Regions from separate parts of the Homo sapiens genome. Here region 2 is linked to region 1. A link means that fine-mapping ties the variant in region 1 to the expression of a gene that starts in the linked region. Tissue or cell type: whole blood. Region 1 holds a variant in brackets; the other region holds the start of a gene. All regions are shown on one strand. Distances are from middle to middle.

Region 1 (8,111 bases):
TATTTTCCCTGCATAACCACAACAAAATTCAGAAATTAACATTGTTACGTTAGCACCATATGATACTCAGTGTTCGTATTTAGATTTGTAGTCCCAATAATCCAATAATATTCTTTTTTTTTTTTGAAATGGAGTCTTGTTCTGTCACCCAGGCTGGAGTGCAGTGGCATAATCTCAGTTTACGGCACTCTCCACCTCTCAGGTTCAAGCTATTCTCCTGCCTCAGCCTCCCAAGTAGCTGGGATTACAGGCACCCGTCACCACACCCAGCTAATTTTTGTATTTTTGGTAGAGATGGGGTTACACCATGTTGGCCAGGCTGGTTTCAAACTCCTGACCTCAGGTGATACACCCGCCTCAGCCTCCAAAAGTGCTGGGATTACAGGTGTGAGCCACGGTGCTTGGACCCTATAATATTCCTAGTAGCAAATGGATCCTGTTCAGAATCATGCTATGCATTCAGTTGCTATATTCTTTAGTCTCTTATAGTCTGGAGCAGTTGCTGGGTCTTTGTTGATTTTCATGACCTTGAACGATTACAGGGCAATTGTTTTACAGAATATTTCTCCTCACTCCACTCAAGTTATGACTCCCCACAGCAGCCCCGCTCCACGGATGCTCTAATCACTCTTAGGCTGTGACACCCATGCCAGGTTCTCTCTCCACATAAACAGTCACCTTTGCCTGTCTGAGCTCCAGCAGTGTGGCTTCCTGCCCTTTCCAGCAAAATGCTTACATTGTTTTGTCCATCTATTGTCTTTAGGACTGAATTTTTCAAAAAGGGAAAGGGAAGCAGAGATTAGATATCAATTTAAGATCAATTCCAGCTCCAGAATTCTATGATAGATAAATTAATATGGTCAAATATTTGAAAGTTTATGCTCAGAAAATGGAGTAGAGCTGTGTCGATACCATTGGGAAAAATAACCATATCTGAAATAATAACTGAGGCCAGAGCAAAGGGAGGCGCTGAGTAGCTTGGGATAGGGCTAGATGTGGCACCCTGTGTGTGGCACGCTGGAGAGTCTGGCCAGAGCACAAGATCCCAGAGTGGTCAGAGAAGTTAGAATATGTTTACAGACGCCCCCACCCCCCGACCCCCAGAAAGGGAGAGGAGGTAGTAGATGGCCAGAAAGCAAGGCATGTCCATTAGAGTGGTCAAGGCAAAAAAGGAAAATATAACAATACTAACCAGCAAGTATCTTAATATGGATTAGACAGACTAGTGAGCTAATGTGTTATGGGAACAATACACCTGGTCTGAGTAATGTATTGCTGATCATACATTATCAGACCACTAGATACCATTAATTTGTGATATCTTACCAACAGCAAAGTTTATCCCAGGCTCTAAGTAATTGATATTATGCTGCCATCCTTTGGTTGAATTTAAAATGCCTCGTTTACTAACTGGAACTGTTTTTGTGTGTTTTAAACAGAGGGTATCACAATTTTAATTACATTTTTTAGATTGACAGTAATGATAAATAATTTATGGAGACAAGTGAATAAATAAAACTTGATACTTATGTAATAAATTTAAAAGTCATTGAAAAGCCCATTCTAGCTAAAGATGAACTACCAGTCGTTTGTTTAATTTATTTTAGAGACTTCGTCATACTGACTGATACTTAAGATTTAGCCCTTTTTTCATCATCATGACACTTTCCATTGTCTTTCTCTAAGCAATGTAAGCATGCAGTGAATTTCCTTAATACCATCCTTAGATTCAGACAAGAGTGACCTATGCTCTACTCTAGGTCTTGCCCTTTTGAGAAACCTGAATATCAGACATGATTCAATTTATACAACACATGTGTATGCACACACGGAAGTGCACATACACACACATGCATAGACACACACAACATTTTAAAAAAGCATCTAGTACCCACATCACTTAGGATCTGGTACTCAGTGCTCACATATGGCCCAATAACTCTAAATATACATGCTCATTAGTAATTCCATTTGGTACCCAGGGAGATATTTCTCCACATCTCTTGCTTTCAGTCCCCTACAAAAAATTGACTGTACCTGATGCCATGAAGGAGACGTTGCCTTGGAATGTAGGGGATTTGAGCTGCAGAGGAAAGAGAAGACACATTAATTGCCTAGTAAACCCTTCCTCAAGGACAGCAGGAACGCAATAGATTCTTACAAAATGAAATACCATGTCTCAATAGTCCCCAGTGTCCATTCTCTTGCTTGTCTTTACGTAACAATTAGTGATTCAGCTGTTTGGTGGTCTCTTCACACGGACGCGCATGAAATTTGGTGCCTTGACTCGGAACAGGGGACCTCCCTTGGGAGATCAATCCCCCATCCTCCTGCTCTTTGCTCTGTGAGAAAGATCCACCTACGACCTCAGGTCCTCAGACCAACCAGCCCAAGGAACATCTCACCAATTTCAAATCCGGTAAGCGGCCTCATCTTACTCTCTTCTCCAACCTCTCTCACTGTCCCTCAACCACTTTCTCCTTTCCACTCTTCAATCTCTCCCTTCTCTTAATTTCAATTCCTTTCATTTTCTGGGAGAGACAAAGGAGACACGTTTTATTCATAGACCCAAAACTCCGGCGCCGGTCACGGATTGGGAAGGCAGCCTTCCCTTGGTGTTTAATCATTGCAGGGACGCCTCTCTGATCATTCAGCCATGTTTCAAGGGTGTCAGACCACGCAGGGACGCCTGCCTTGGTCCTTCACCCTTAGCGGCAAGTCCCGCTTTTCTGGGGAAGGGGCAAGTACCTCAACCCCTTCTCTCCTTGTCTCTACCCCTTCTCTGCTTTTCTGGGAGAGGGGCAAATAGCCCTCAACCTCTTCTCTCCTTGTCTCTACCCCTTCTCTGCTTTCCTGGGGCAGGGGCAAGTACCCCTCAACCCCTTCTCCTTCACCCTTAGCGGCGAGTCCCGCTTTCCTAGGGGGCAAGAACCCCCAACCGCTTATTTCCATGCCCCAACCTCTTATCTCTGCGCCCCAACCTCTTATCTCTGCACCCCAATCGCTTATTTCCATGCCCCAACCTCTTATCTCTGCGCCCCAATCCCTTATTTCTGTGCCCCAACCCTTTCTCTGCTTTTCTGGAGGGCAAGAAACCCCCACCCCTTCTCCGTGTCTCTACTCTTTTCTCTGGGCTTGCCTCCTTCACTATGGGCAAGCTTCCACCTTCCATTCCTCCTTCTTCTCCCTTAGCCTGTATTCTTAAGAACTTAAAACCTCTTCAATCCTCACCTGACCTAAAACCTAAATGCCTTATT[T/G]TCTTCTGCAATGCCGCTTGACCCCAATACAAACTCGACAGTAGTTCCAAATAGCCAGAAAATGGCACTTTGAATTTTTCCATCCTGCAATATCTAAATAATTCTTGTCGTAAAATAGGCAAACGGTCTGAGGTGCCTGACATCCAGGCATTCTTTTACACATCAGTCCCTTCCTAGTCTCTGCGCCCAGTGCAACTCGTCCCAAATCTTCCTTCTTTCCCTCCCGCCTGTCCCCTCAGTCCCAACCCCAAGCGTCGCTGAGTCTTTCTAATCTTCCTTTTCTACAGACCCATCTGACCTCTCCCCTCCTCGCCAGGCCGAGCTAGGTCCCAATTCTTCCTCAGCCTCCGTTCCTCCACCCTATAATCTTTTTATCGCCTCCCCTCCTCACACCTGGTCGGGCTTACAGTTTCGTTCCGTGACTAGCCCTCCCCCACCTGCCCAGCAATTTACTCTTAAAAAGGTGGCTGGAGCCAAAGGCATAATCAAGGTTAATGCTCCTTTTTCTTTATCCCAAATCAGATAGCGTTTAGGCTCTTTTTCATCAAATATAAAAACCCAGCCCAGTTCATGGCTCGTTCGGCAGCAACCCTGAGATGCTTTACAGCCCTAGACCCTAAAAGGTCAAAAGGCCATCTTATTCTCAATATACATTTTATTACCCAATCTGCTCCCAACATTAAATAAAACTCCAAAAATTAAATTCCGGCCCTCAAATCCCACAACAGGATTTAATTAACCTTGCCTTCAAGGTGTACAATAATAGAAAAAAGTTTCAACTCCTTGCCTCCACTGTGAGACAAACCCCAGCCACATCTCCAGCACACAAGAACTTCCAAACGCCTGAACCGCAGCGGCCAGGCATTCCTCCAGAACCTCCTCCCCCAGGAGTTTGCTGCAAGTGCCAGAAATGTGGCCACCAGGCCAAGGAATGCCTGCAGCCCAAGATTCCTCCTAAGCCGTGTCCCATCTGTGCGGGACCCCACTGGCAATCGGACTGTCCAACTCACCTGGCAGCCACTCCCAGAGTCCCTGGAACTCTGGCCCAAGGCTCTCTGACTGCTTCCCAGATCTTCTTGGCTTAGCGGCTGAAGACTGACGCTGCCCGATCGCCTCGGAAGCCCCCTAGACCATCACGGACGCCAAGCTTCGGGTAACTCTCACAGTGGAAGGTAAGTCTGTCCCCTTCTTAATCAATACGGAGGCTACCCACTCCATATTACCTTCTTTTCAAGGGCCTGTTTCCCTTGCCCCCATAACTGTTGTGGGTATTGACGGCCAGGCTTCTAAACCTCTTAAAACTCCCCAACTCTGGTGCCAACTTAGACAATACTCTTTTAAGCACTCCTTTTTAGTTATCCCCACCTGCCCAGTTCCCTTATTAGGCTGAGACATTTTAACCAAATTATCTGCTTCCCTGACTATTCCTGGACCATAGCCGCATCTCATTGATGCCCTTCTTCCCAATCCAAAGCCTCTTTTGCGTCCTCCTCTTGTATTCCCCCATCTTAACCCACAAGTATAAGATACCTCTACTCCCTCCTTGGCGACCGATCATGCACCCCTTACCATCTCATTAAAACCTAATCACCCTTACCTGGCTCAATGCCAATATCCCATCCCACAGCATGCTTTGAAAGGATTAAAGCCTGTTAACACTTGCCTTCACTTAGACTGACCCTGACACCCATTAGGCTCAGCAAATTACCTGGGCTATACTGCCGCAAGGCTTCACAGACAGCCCCCATTACTTCAGTCAAGCCCAAATTTCATCCTCATCTGTTAGTCATACTCCTATTCACCGTTCTCAACTACTCATACATGCCCTGCTCTTGTTTACACTGCTGGTTTACACTGTTTCTCCAAGCCATCGCAGCTGATATCTCCTGGTGCTATCCCCAAACTGCCACTCTAAACTCTTGAAGTAAATAAATAATCTTTGCTGGCAGGACTATGCTGAATCTCCTTAGGCACTCTCTAATTAGATGTCCTAGGTCCTCCCAATTCTTAGTCCTTTTATACCTGTTTTTCTCCTTCTCTTATTCCATTTAGTTTGTCACTTCATCCAAGACCGTATCCAGGCCAACCAATCATTCTATATGACAGATGTTTCTTCTAACATCCCCACAATATCACCCCTTACCACAAGACCTCCCTTCAGCTTAATCTCTCCCACTCTAGGTTCCCACGCCGCCCCAATCCCGCTTGAAGCAGCCCTGAGAAACATCGCCCATTCTCTGTCCATATCACCCGCCAGAAATTTTTGCCGCCCCAACACTTCACTATTTTGTTTTATTTTTCTTATTAATATAAGAAGGCAGGAATGTCAGGCCTCTGAGCCCAAGCCAAGCCATTGCATCCCCTGTGACTTGCACGTATACGCCCAGATGGCCTGAAGTAACTGAAGAATCACAAAAGAAGTGAACATGCCCTGCCCCACCTTAACTGATGACATTCCACCACAAAAGAAGTGTAAATGGCCAGTCCTTGCCTTAAGTGATGACATTACCTTGTGAAAGTCCTTTTCCTGGCTCATCCTGGCTCGAAAAGCACCCCCACTGAGCACCTTGCGAACCCCCACTCCTGCCCACCAGAGAACAAACCCCCTTTGAGTGTAATTTTCCTTTACCTACCCAAATCCTATAAAACGGCCCCACCCTTATCTCCCTTCCCTGACTCTTTTCGGACTCAGCCCGCCTGCACCCAGGTGAAATAAAGAGCCATGTTGCTCAAAAAAAAAAAAAAAAAAAAAAAACAATTAGTGATTCAGGAGGGACTCATAAATTATGATGGGCATTGGCAATAGTTGTACATGGAGGCTGGAAAATATTTCTCAATATTAATCAATTTATTTTACTCTTAAATCTTAATTTATGTTGGTCTAGACATATGCTGGAAGTGTGATACATTTTTTTTTACATTGTTATCCATATGAACCTTGTAAGATAGAATTGCATGTAATTTTACTTTTATAAACATTTTTAATGCTTAATACGTTTTTAATTAAAAGGTTAAGTATATGCTTTATTTAAATACTGTCAGTTTAAATTTGATATTAATTATACCACACATGTTGTCTTTTAATTTTGATAGATAACATTGTATAAAATATTTCATGTTTTTTGAAAATATAAAATATGTAATATTTTTAACATTTACTTTAGATTACATTTTTTGTGAAAACATTTTCAAAATTTCTAGACTTTGAATACAATTATATTTTGTTTTTAATCTTTTAGATCAGGGTTCAGCAAACCTTTCTGTAAAAGACCAGAGAGTAAATATTTCAGGTTTTGTAGACCATATAGTTCCTATCACAACTATTCAGCCTTGCTATTGTAGCATGAAAGTGCCATAACAAATGAGCATCATTGTGTTCTAGTAAAACTTTATTTACAAAAGTAGGTGGTAGGCCAGATGCAGTGGCTCACGCCTGTAATTCCAGCACTTTGGGAGGCCAAGGCGGGCAGATCACGAGGTCAGGAGATCGAGACCATCCTGGCTAAAACAGTGAAACCCCATCTCTACTAAAAATATAAAAAAATTAGCTGGGTGTGGTGGTGGGCGCCTGTAGTCCCAGCTACTTGGGAGGCTGAGGCAGGAGAATGGCGTGAACCTGGGAGGCGGAGCTTGCGGTTAGCCGAGATCAAGCCACTGCACGCCAGCCTGGGCGACAAAGCAAAACTCCATCTCAAAAAAAAAAAAAAAAAAAAAAAAAAAGAAGAAGCAGGAGGTGGTAGGACAGATTTGGTCCATAGGCTATAGTTTGCCAACTCCCACTTTAGATTATTTATAATGAGAGAACCTCCACTTCTAGTCATGAGGGACAACTAGATTTATCATCTCACTTTGAACAACTAGAATACTGAGTAAAATATACGAAAAATAGTTTTTAGACATTGGATAACAGACAGCGTAAGATAATGATCCTTGAGAGAAAGGAAAGAAATACAGTAAGCCCTACAATTGCTCCAGCTTAATGCTGGATAGAAAATTGGCAGGCTGCAGCACAAAGAGGAGGAAACTCCAACAGACCAGTGTTCTCAATGAGTTGATATGTCATAGTTTGGAGTTCAGGGAGGCAGAAAAATATTGGAGAAGATATTGCTGCACAGAGGGAAATTGGGGAAGAATGAATGAGAGCTACGAAGATCTGTAAAAATGTCTTCAGGAGTCTTTAGCTAATGTGTGGTTTGTGTATGTGCGTAAAGGAGTTACCCGATTAGGAAAAGAACACCCAGAAAGGAGCAGGCAGTACAGGCTGTCCCCAGTGCTAACACAGGGCTGGGGATATTTCATGTTTCCAGCAGCCAGAGGGCAAAAATCTCCAAATTCAGAGAGCATTAAGTAGAGTCCTCAAAAGACTATATTCTTGGTTACAAAGGCATTGCCCTAAATTATAAAGTCTGCTTCACTCATGCTAACAAAGCCAATGTCAGAGGAATCCAATTCCAAGTAACTCAACTATACCCTAAAACAAAGTTCAACTGTACGTAAAGGACTTAACAAATCCAACTCCCATTAAAGTAAAATTTACAATGCTCAGAATCCACTCAAAAGTTACCAAACATGCAAAAGACATAGGAAAATAGGACCCATAAAGAGTAGAAATATAATTGACAAGACCAGACTCAGAAATGACACAAATGATAGAATTATCAGAAAAGGAGATTAAACACCTACTATAAATGTACTCCATATGCTCAAGAATGTAGAGGAAAAGATGAATGTGATGAGGAAAGAAATGTAGATATGAAAAAGAAACAAATTCAACTTCTACAAATGAAAGTATAATATCTGAAGTGATAAATATACTGGATGGGATTAACTGTAGATAAGATACTACCAAAGGAA
Region 2 (8,111 bases), 70 kb before region 1:
ATTCTTATTTCAACTTTTATTCTTAATTATGAAACATTTCAAAATGATGCCAGATATTCATACACCCACCATCTAGTTTGAACAGATAATAACATTTGCATAGATATTTATAGTGTTGTCTTTTTAGCAAGTTTTTCTACGTAAAGAACTATAAAATACTTTTTAGCAAGTTTTCTGTATATAAACTTTTTATATATAAAGTTTTTCTATAACATGTCTACTATAAAGAAGACATTAAAATATTTGTCGATGTCATCAGTCAAATCACTTAAACTGAAATTATCTGCTAACTTCCACATAAAAGCTTATTAGAACTTCAAAAAATGCCAGAGAGACCGCTAAGAAATTCTTTCCAATGCTTCTTGCACCACCTCATTGTTCAAAAACAATACTAATAATAATCACCAGAATTTGGGTTTGCTTACATGCAAAAACATTTCTAAATAAGTAAACTAAAAATGAAATGGAAAGCACACTTTGTATACTTTCTGTTAATAATTTATTTTATAATTATTATAAATATTTATTTTGGAAAAAGATTGTTTTGGCATTTCTGTTCCCATTTGTCCTGTACTTCATGTGTGTGGGTGCATTTTATATTTATATTTATATATATATATATACACACACACACATACATATGTATACACACACATACACATATGTATCTTAAATACATATATTTAAACTTTAAATAAAATAAAGATTGTATTCTACTCTCTTCTGAAAGTCCTTGATTACCAGTGGATGTATAAAGACGTGATAACTAATACAGAACAAGTTTTATGGTACAGAAATTATTAATCACTAAAATAATACATTAAGCTTTGTAAGTAATATATTTAGAAATAATTTAAATGCCAGTAGAAACTTTGACTTATTTATTCATTTTAGGGTACAACTAGAAAATGAGTAGTGGTTCATCTTTTACTTGCAGGTAAAGGTTGAGGAGGAAATTCTCACATTCAAGATGATGCTGTCATTATAATGAAGTAAGATGGAACAAAAAGTTGTATGTGAAGTACCCTGGGCAAGCCCCTTTGATAGTTTTAGCTACAGATGCCTGTGTGTTTGCAATGTGGGCCTCTTATGGCTGTATTCTATTAGCTCTGGGTTTACTGTGATATTATGTATATTTGTCTTGGGCCAAACAGCTTGCTTGCCTCAGTTGAAGTCTAAAAGATACTATGGGCTTAAGACACTTTTTGTTTATTTGCTATTTGAGGTGAATTATTCCTTCTTTGCTTCTTTGCTATTCATAATATTATGATATATAATTTTGGCTATGCAATTGTGTAATCTTTTCTATAATATTATTTTGGGCTTCTGTATAAAAGCTTAAAAATATGTTCCACGAATGAGATGCTTATGCTTGTTTATTCAATATTTTTTTCTGTTGGACTTTGGACAAAGTCTTGCCTAGTGGGATTCACATATAAGGAAAGCTTTTTTTTCTTGTTACTCACAGAATTACGATGTTTAAAATAGCTATTTGAGTTCAATGATACTATACTTTCCATAATAAATTTAGAGTACTTTTTTCACTTCAAAGAATGCTTTTGAGTTTTCCATGAATAGGTTTCACTAACTACATTTTTAAAAAGACCTTAGCTCTGAGGTTTATCCTCTTTTACATCTTAAGGTACATTTTTCATGATTTCTAAAATATTTGCTTTTTAAAAATACTAGGACTGTTAATTTTAAAAATTCATTTTTCAAAATTTTCAGAAATTTTAATATTAAGAATCTGTTTAATTTTTTTTATTTCTTGGTCAAGGCAGTCATATGGTTTGAGATTTCTCAGTTCTTTAAAATGGGAGTTCATAAATTCAACCTGTTCTAAGCTAACTGTAGTGATTCCTAGCTGTCGTTTACTTAACACTATTAACCATTAAACACTACTGACATCTCAACTCAAAACATACACTTAGGTATAGGAAATAGTATACAAACATTTTATTTAACCATATCGTATGCAGAAAATTTAAAATTTGAATCTTTCTTATAGTCCTTGGACTCAAATCTTCATGCAAATACAATTTATATAATCAATTATATTTGACTTGTGTTTTTTAAAGTGGCTAAGGAAATGAGTACCAACTTATTAGGGAATATTTGATGAATATTTTTCGTTTTGGTTGAACAAATGACTACGTAGAGTTATATTTACTTCAAAATCAATAAAATACCACTATTAACCTTGCTCTGACGCTCCCACCCCCACCCTTCAACTCGTAGAATATTTTTTGGTGGTAACTAGACTGACCTTTGCCAAAATGTAATTACATTCAGAGAGAAATACAATTTTCCCCTTCAAATCCAGGTGAAAGGCTACCATGCTGGGCTTGCGGAGGGCATAGTTGAGTAGGACAGCCAGAACTTCTGGCTAGGTCATCGGGTCGGATTACCCTGCCATGTACCCCTCAGTATTTACTTCCAGAGATGGGCAACTTACTATAGTCTTCATGTTTAAGGAATTCAAACCCAAATGAAAAGTGTTGTGAAAGCATAAATATCTCTGCTTGTATACTACAGTACTGAATATGAAACCACATATTGCAATAAAAATAACTAACGATGGCCCATGCATTTCACAAGGCGCTCTCATACACCTGAAGGGGCAGTGGAAAGGTTCAGAGCACCCAGGCTGTCCCAAAGAGGGCGGAATCAAATCTGGGCGCAGGTGGGTACCCGGAAAAAATTCTTGGTGGAGATGGCATCTGAGAGAGGCGTCGAAGGACACGGAGGGTTGAGGATAGGAGAGAGGCCACTCCAGATGGAAAAACACCCTCGTTTTCCAAATGCCAGTTATACCACGGGGCCTGTGATAGCCGCCACGTTTCTAGAAGACCCCTAGAAGAGCAGGGGTCCGACCAAGGAAGTACTTCCGCTGTTCAATTTGCTAAGTTTGCATTCGGAGAGTACAAGGGCGAGCTCTGGCTCTTGCAGGTGGACTCCCTCTCCCTTAGCTCTGACTGCGAGAAGCTCCCACCCGCAAAGGGCTACTGTGCCAAAAGCGAGCGTAGTGGCCGCCGCTTCCCCCACAAAATTCCGTCACTCGGGAGCTGCGTTGCAGTGGAGAAACCTGGGTCCCGTCCGGGCCCAAGGGAGGAGGCTCAGCACGGCCGCTCCCGCAGCCCCGTCCAGGCGCCTCTTCCCTCCCCCTCCTTTCCGCGGCGGTCGCGGCGGCGGCTGGAGCGGGAGCCGGGGGCGGCGAGGGGCGGAGCCGGGGCGGAGCCACGGCGCTGGCGGCCCCGGCGGCGGCGGCAGGTGTGGATGGGGCGAAGGTGCGGGAACGTCCACTCCCGCGCGCCCCTCTCGGGGACCAGGGCGGCCTCCCAGGAGGAGCTTGGTGAGCAGCTGCGACCTGTGCATAACTTGGGGCGCCGCCAGGGGCTCGCAGGTTCCACGTCCGGCGCCTGGAGAAGGAAGACGCGCGTCCCCGGCCGCGGCGCCGAAGCCGGCTGGGGGACCGCCTGGTCCCGGGCCAGAGCTGGGAGGCGGTGTTCCGTGAGCCGCCTGGTCTGGGGTGCGGGGGGCGGGAAGCGGCCCCTTCGTGTGCGCTTGGGCGAGGCCGGGCGGCGCTTCTGTCCTCCTACTCGGACCCGCAGGTAAGCTGGGAGAGCCTTGGTCCCGCTGCGCGCTGAGCTGGCTAGGGAGGCGCCCCTCAAGGAGTTGAGGAGGCTTCGGGGCCTGGGCACACGGCAGTGGGCACACGGCAGTCGACACCCGGGTCCGAGGACCGCCGGCGCCCGTTGGCGCCCAAACGAGGATGCGCCGCGGGGTCCGGCGCATCCCGGAGCGCCGGCCGCCCTTGGCTCTTCGCGGAACCGCCGCCTCCTCTTGTCCAAATCTCAGGTCGTCATCCTGGCCCGAAGTCACAGGTTCGCTCTCTGTCCCTAAACCTCGAGGAAGGAGTTGTGTGTGTCCATGAGCGTGTTGGCGGAGAGCGCTTTCATACAGCGATGTTTGAGTTGAGCTCATTTTACCACCTAAAATTACTGTCACTTTAAAACTTAACTAAGCTTTCCCTTCTTAGAAGAGAAATTAGGCTTGTGGTTTACACCCATGGCTAGTAGGATTAAAGTTTGTTTTTGCCCTGTACAGCTGAGAAAATGTTTTGTAAAATCCTGAATTTTCCAACAGTACTTCTAAAAGAGCCTCCGATTCTCCAGCGAGACAATGGCAGTCATTAAAAAAAACACAGCGGAAATGTTCACTTAGAGCGGCTTCACTAGGAGAGAAGTTAAGGAAACCTTAGGCAAAAGTGACCCCTTAATTGACACCTTACAGGACCGTTTTTTTGACCTTGTATTAGTGGTAATAGGACTAAGAATGACAGCTCAAGAACTATACCTGGTTTGGAACTGAGGCTGTGGCCAGACGCCCCTCACTTTCCGGGGACCTCTAGTTTCTGGAATCGGGCCTTTGAACTTCCTTATTGAAATCCTGGCAGCTTTGAAGTGAAATTAGGAAAATGATCCTATTTATTCGCTGGAGTTTATTAACTCTGCATTAAAGTGTTTATCTCCTGGGCCAAAATTGAAACAATATTGTATTTTGCATTTTGTTTTAAATAAATTTTTACCAATTCAGGTAAAAATTGGATTTGAAAATGACAGTTAAGTCTAGGTTTATTTGTTGTCGAGTTTTGTATGAGGGGGCTGACTTTTAAGTTGTTTTTTAAAGTCCAATCCTGGTTATTTTTCATTGTCTTCAGAGGTTAATCTTTAGGTGAGAACTTTATCTTGATTTTAAGGCAAAAAAAGTAAAAAAGGCAGTGATTTAAGTCACCCAAAGAACTATAGTTCCTCCTTTCTCTTTTTTTCCTTAACTTGAGACAGAGCTTCCTGAAAATTGGGCAGCTGCTTTAATCTTATCATATAAAAAATGTTTCAAGTTGAATTTGGGGCCCTAAAATGGAAAATTTTGATTTGTGTTTGTTTTAATAGAATCATTAGACCTTATGGAATTATCAGCTTGGAGTGTTTATTTTCTATTTATACCATATTACTACTTTGTTGTACATGTTAATATTGCTTAGATGATAGGTAAATGTTTAGAGAAACCAGACTTTAATAAAGTACAGAATTATTCATTGGATGAAATTTTATAATTTTTCAGTCTTATAAATTCTGAAAAGTGTATAACAGAGACAAAGTGTTTAACCTATAATGTGGATTGTTGGCCCTTTTTGGAATTTTAAACGAGAAGGGAGGTATGAAATGCTTTATTCTATATTTAAGCATCTTTTTAGAAGTGGAAATAAATTGGAGGATCACTTTTATGTACAGTGTAATGGCTAGATAGCTATTCTAGAAACTACAACAAATGCTTGAGGAAGTAAAATTAGAAGGTAGTATAAAATTGTGTATTATATTTTTACAATTTCAAGGAGATTGCATACTTATAAATTTCATATCCTCAAGTGAAGAGTGTTGAACTGAATAAAATAGAATTTTTCTACATACCATGTTTTTCTCAGATTAAAAAAAATAGTCATCTTGGTTTGCCTAAAAAACTAAGCTGTAGTTAAATTTGGTTGGTACGTATTTGGGATAATTAAAAATACTTTAATTCATGTACTTTAACAGTTCTTTTCTTCAGTAACAGGTTTTTATAAGAAATGTTTTACTTGAAACATTGACATTTAATGACAGATGTCATTATATTTTTCATATAATTGCCACAGTTTTTCTTCATTGTGTGTATCTAGGTAGCTTTGGCATATAAACATCGGGGGGGCTCTAAACAAATTTTAACTGTAAAAAAGCAAGAGATGCAATCCCAGATTATTAACATTTGAGGAATGAAATCCAGCTTTAAGATAAAATGGCTTTTTGAAGACACTTTAAAATACATATAATGATAGGATTCTTAGAGAGTAATGTTTTTGGTAGTTCTTTTAATCATAAAATGAATTAACAAAAGAATTGATGCTTAAGTTTGAACAGCTTCTTGGTTTCACAACTATTTCCTTAGAAATAATCTCCCAAGTGATTCAGAAATTTTTATGGAAGTGAGGAAAAAAAACAGCAACTTTTGTTGGATCTAGGGTAGGTCAATCTTAACTAAGAAACAGCGAAATTTGATCTTTGTGTTATAAACTGTAGTTTCACTGAGGACTTCTTAACTATGTCATCTTTTTAAATACAATTAAGTGTTTAGAAAGTAAGTCAGTTATTTTATTTGTACAATATAAGTGCTTGCTGTATTTATGGATATTGAGGCTTTTTTATCCACATCTTATGTGAGAAGGCAGTCCAGGAAATTATTAAAATAATTTTGGTAAGAGTCTAGATGAAGGGGAAAAATCGATTGTATATATGTGTGCTGGTTTGCAGTATGGAGGGGAGTAAAAAGAGTCTGAGAACAAAACTTACTTTCGGACTTCCTAGAAGTTTCTGCTTTATTATGTAATTGAATTTTTTTGTCAGGATGTAGTTATTGGTTGTACTAAAATACAGCAGACAACAGAAAAAATAAATCTCATTTGAAAATCCTTAATCATGGCTTTATCGAATACACAGCTTACTCTATTTTGTCTAAATACCAGCTTCCAAGCTGTCAGCATTAATTTAGAAGCCAATTTCTAAATTAAATGTGTTATTAAGTAATTTCCATTTAAGAGCAATGTCCAAATAGCACTGATTCTTTAAGTAAAATAATAATTATATTAATAAAAATTATACTTTTGGGCAAATGGCAGGGGAAAAATGCCATTTTTATTGGCCTTGGAAACATTTATGCTAAGCAGTTTGTGGCCCAGTTTCCATTTCTGTGATTGTGCTGCCTCTGACAAAGGATCGACTACTGAGCGGTGAAAGATTGTATAGGGAAAATTAATAAAACCTGCTACGTGGGTTGATCATAGTTCTGCCTGATAAGCCTGAGTCCATATGAATCTGAGCCAGTTAAGAAGTTCTGAGTCTTAATTCCCCACAGCTCTTTCACATTGATTCCTGTGAGTTAGCAGTAGTGAAGGAGTCCCCTTCTCTGCCATTTGCAAAGCCAACTTCATGATCCGCAGCAAATCAAACCCACGAAATGTTTTGGTCTTGTCCAATTCAGCTTTACTTCCTTGCCAGGGGCATAACAGTTGAAGTTAAAAGACTTAGACCCAAATGGGAAAATTAGTGCCATTTGTGTATAGGCAGTAGCCTTGTTCATACTACTTTCAACCTAATTAGAAAGAAATAAAGTATGATTTGATTGTAAGTCCGCCAGGGTAGGTAGCATATAGGGGAGTGTGGCTCAAGAATCTAAGTTTTTCACTTATTTTGAATTATTAAGAGTTTGCGTTATAGTTCTCTTTTTTGTTTTACTTCTATAGAGTGCTTCTACAATTTGGAAGAGGGGAAAAGTACAATAAAATGGCAAATATTAAAGTGACCAAGAAGGCATAGCATTGGTTACAGAAAAGTTCTTTCACTTCTCCTTAGGTAATTCTGTGTTGGATTTTCTTCTTTGTATTTTAAATCTAGGTTCTTTGCTTAGAGGTAATTTTGATTCTGAGGAGGGTAGCAGGAAAGGAAAATGAACTGCATCTAAAAACCAGTGTAATCCGACAACTGACGTCTTATTTCTGCCAAATTTCAGGTGGACTTGGGCCACGTTAGTAAATTGGATATGTATAAAATAAGATAAAGAAATCATCTCAGAAAGTCCTGCTCTAGAAGCTTCTAGTATGTGAGGTGAGACTATTTTAGAGTCCAAGGTTTGAATACAAGCAAAGGATTGATTTCCCCAAAAGTCAAACTGGTACGATCTTACTATCTAAAATAACTTGAGATTTTTGAGTTATAGCACATGTTGAAGTAGAAATTCCAGTCATAAAGTCATTATTGAATGATTATCCTGGGGAGTTTTGCCTCACTGATCAAACCTTTTACTGATTATCTCAACTTCATTAACTAAATAAAAAATTTCATATAAGAAGCAGTGGACTAAAGCACTAAAAGTGTGAGTTCTCTGAAGTAAAATCCACATAAAGTAAATGAAGCCTTAAAAATTAGGATTTAAGTAGCTTTTAACTAGAGTGGTTTTTGAAGTAAAAACTGGTAATATTGTCACTTGACATTTTCTTTTCATATTCTGTGCCGTGACTCAAA

What was found. PIP is the estimated chance that this variant, and not a neighbour inherited with it, causes the effect.
Region 2: it holds the start of MIR31HG, and the variant in region 1 is fine-mapped to the expression of MIR31HG in whole blood (TOPMed, PIP above 0.99).

What each region holds. Positions count from the first base shown.
Region 1 is chr9:21,485,207-21,493,317 of GRCh38, reverse strand. All of the region lies in intron 1 of MIR31HG (MIR31 host gene), which reads left to right. Among named protein-coding and RNA genes, the nearest start is that of IFNE, 6.9 kb to the right of the region's middle. RefSeq lists an enhancer at 5,449-6,038. The variant T/G (reference allele first, on the strand shown) is at 3,258.
Region 2 is chr9:21,554,989-21,563,099 of GRCh38, reverse strand. It overlaps MIR31HG (MIR31 host gene), which reads left to right and starts at 3,302. Exons shown (of 3, transcript NR_152879.1): 1 at 3,302-3,611. RefSeq lists an enhancer at 3,741-4,527.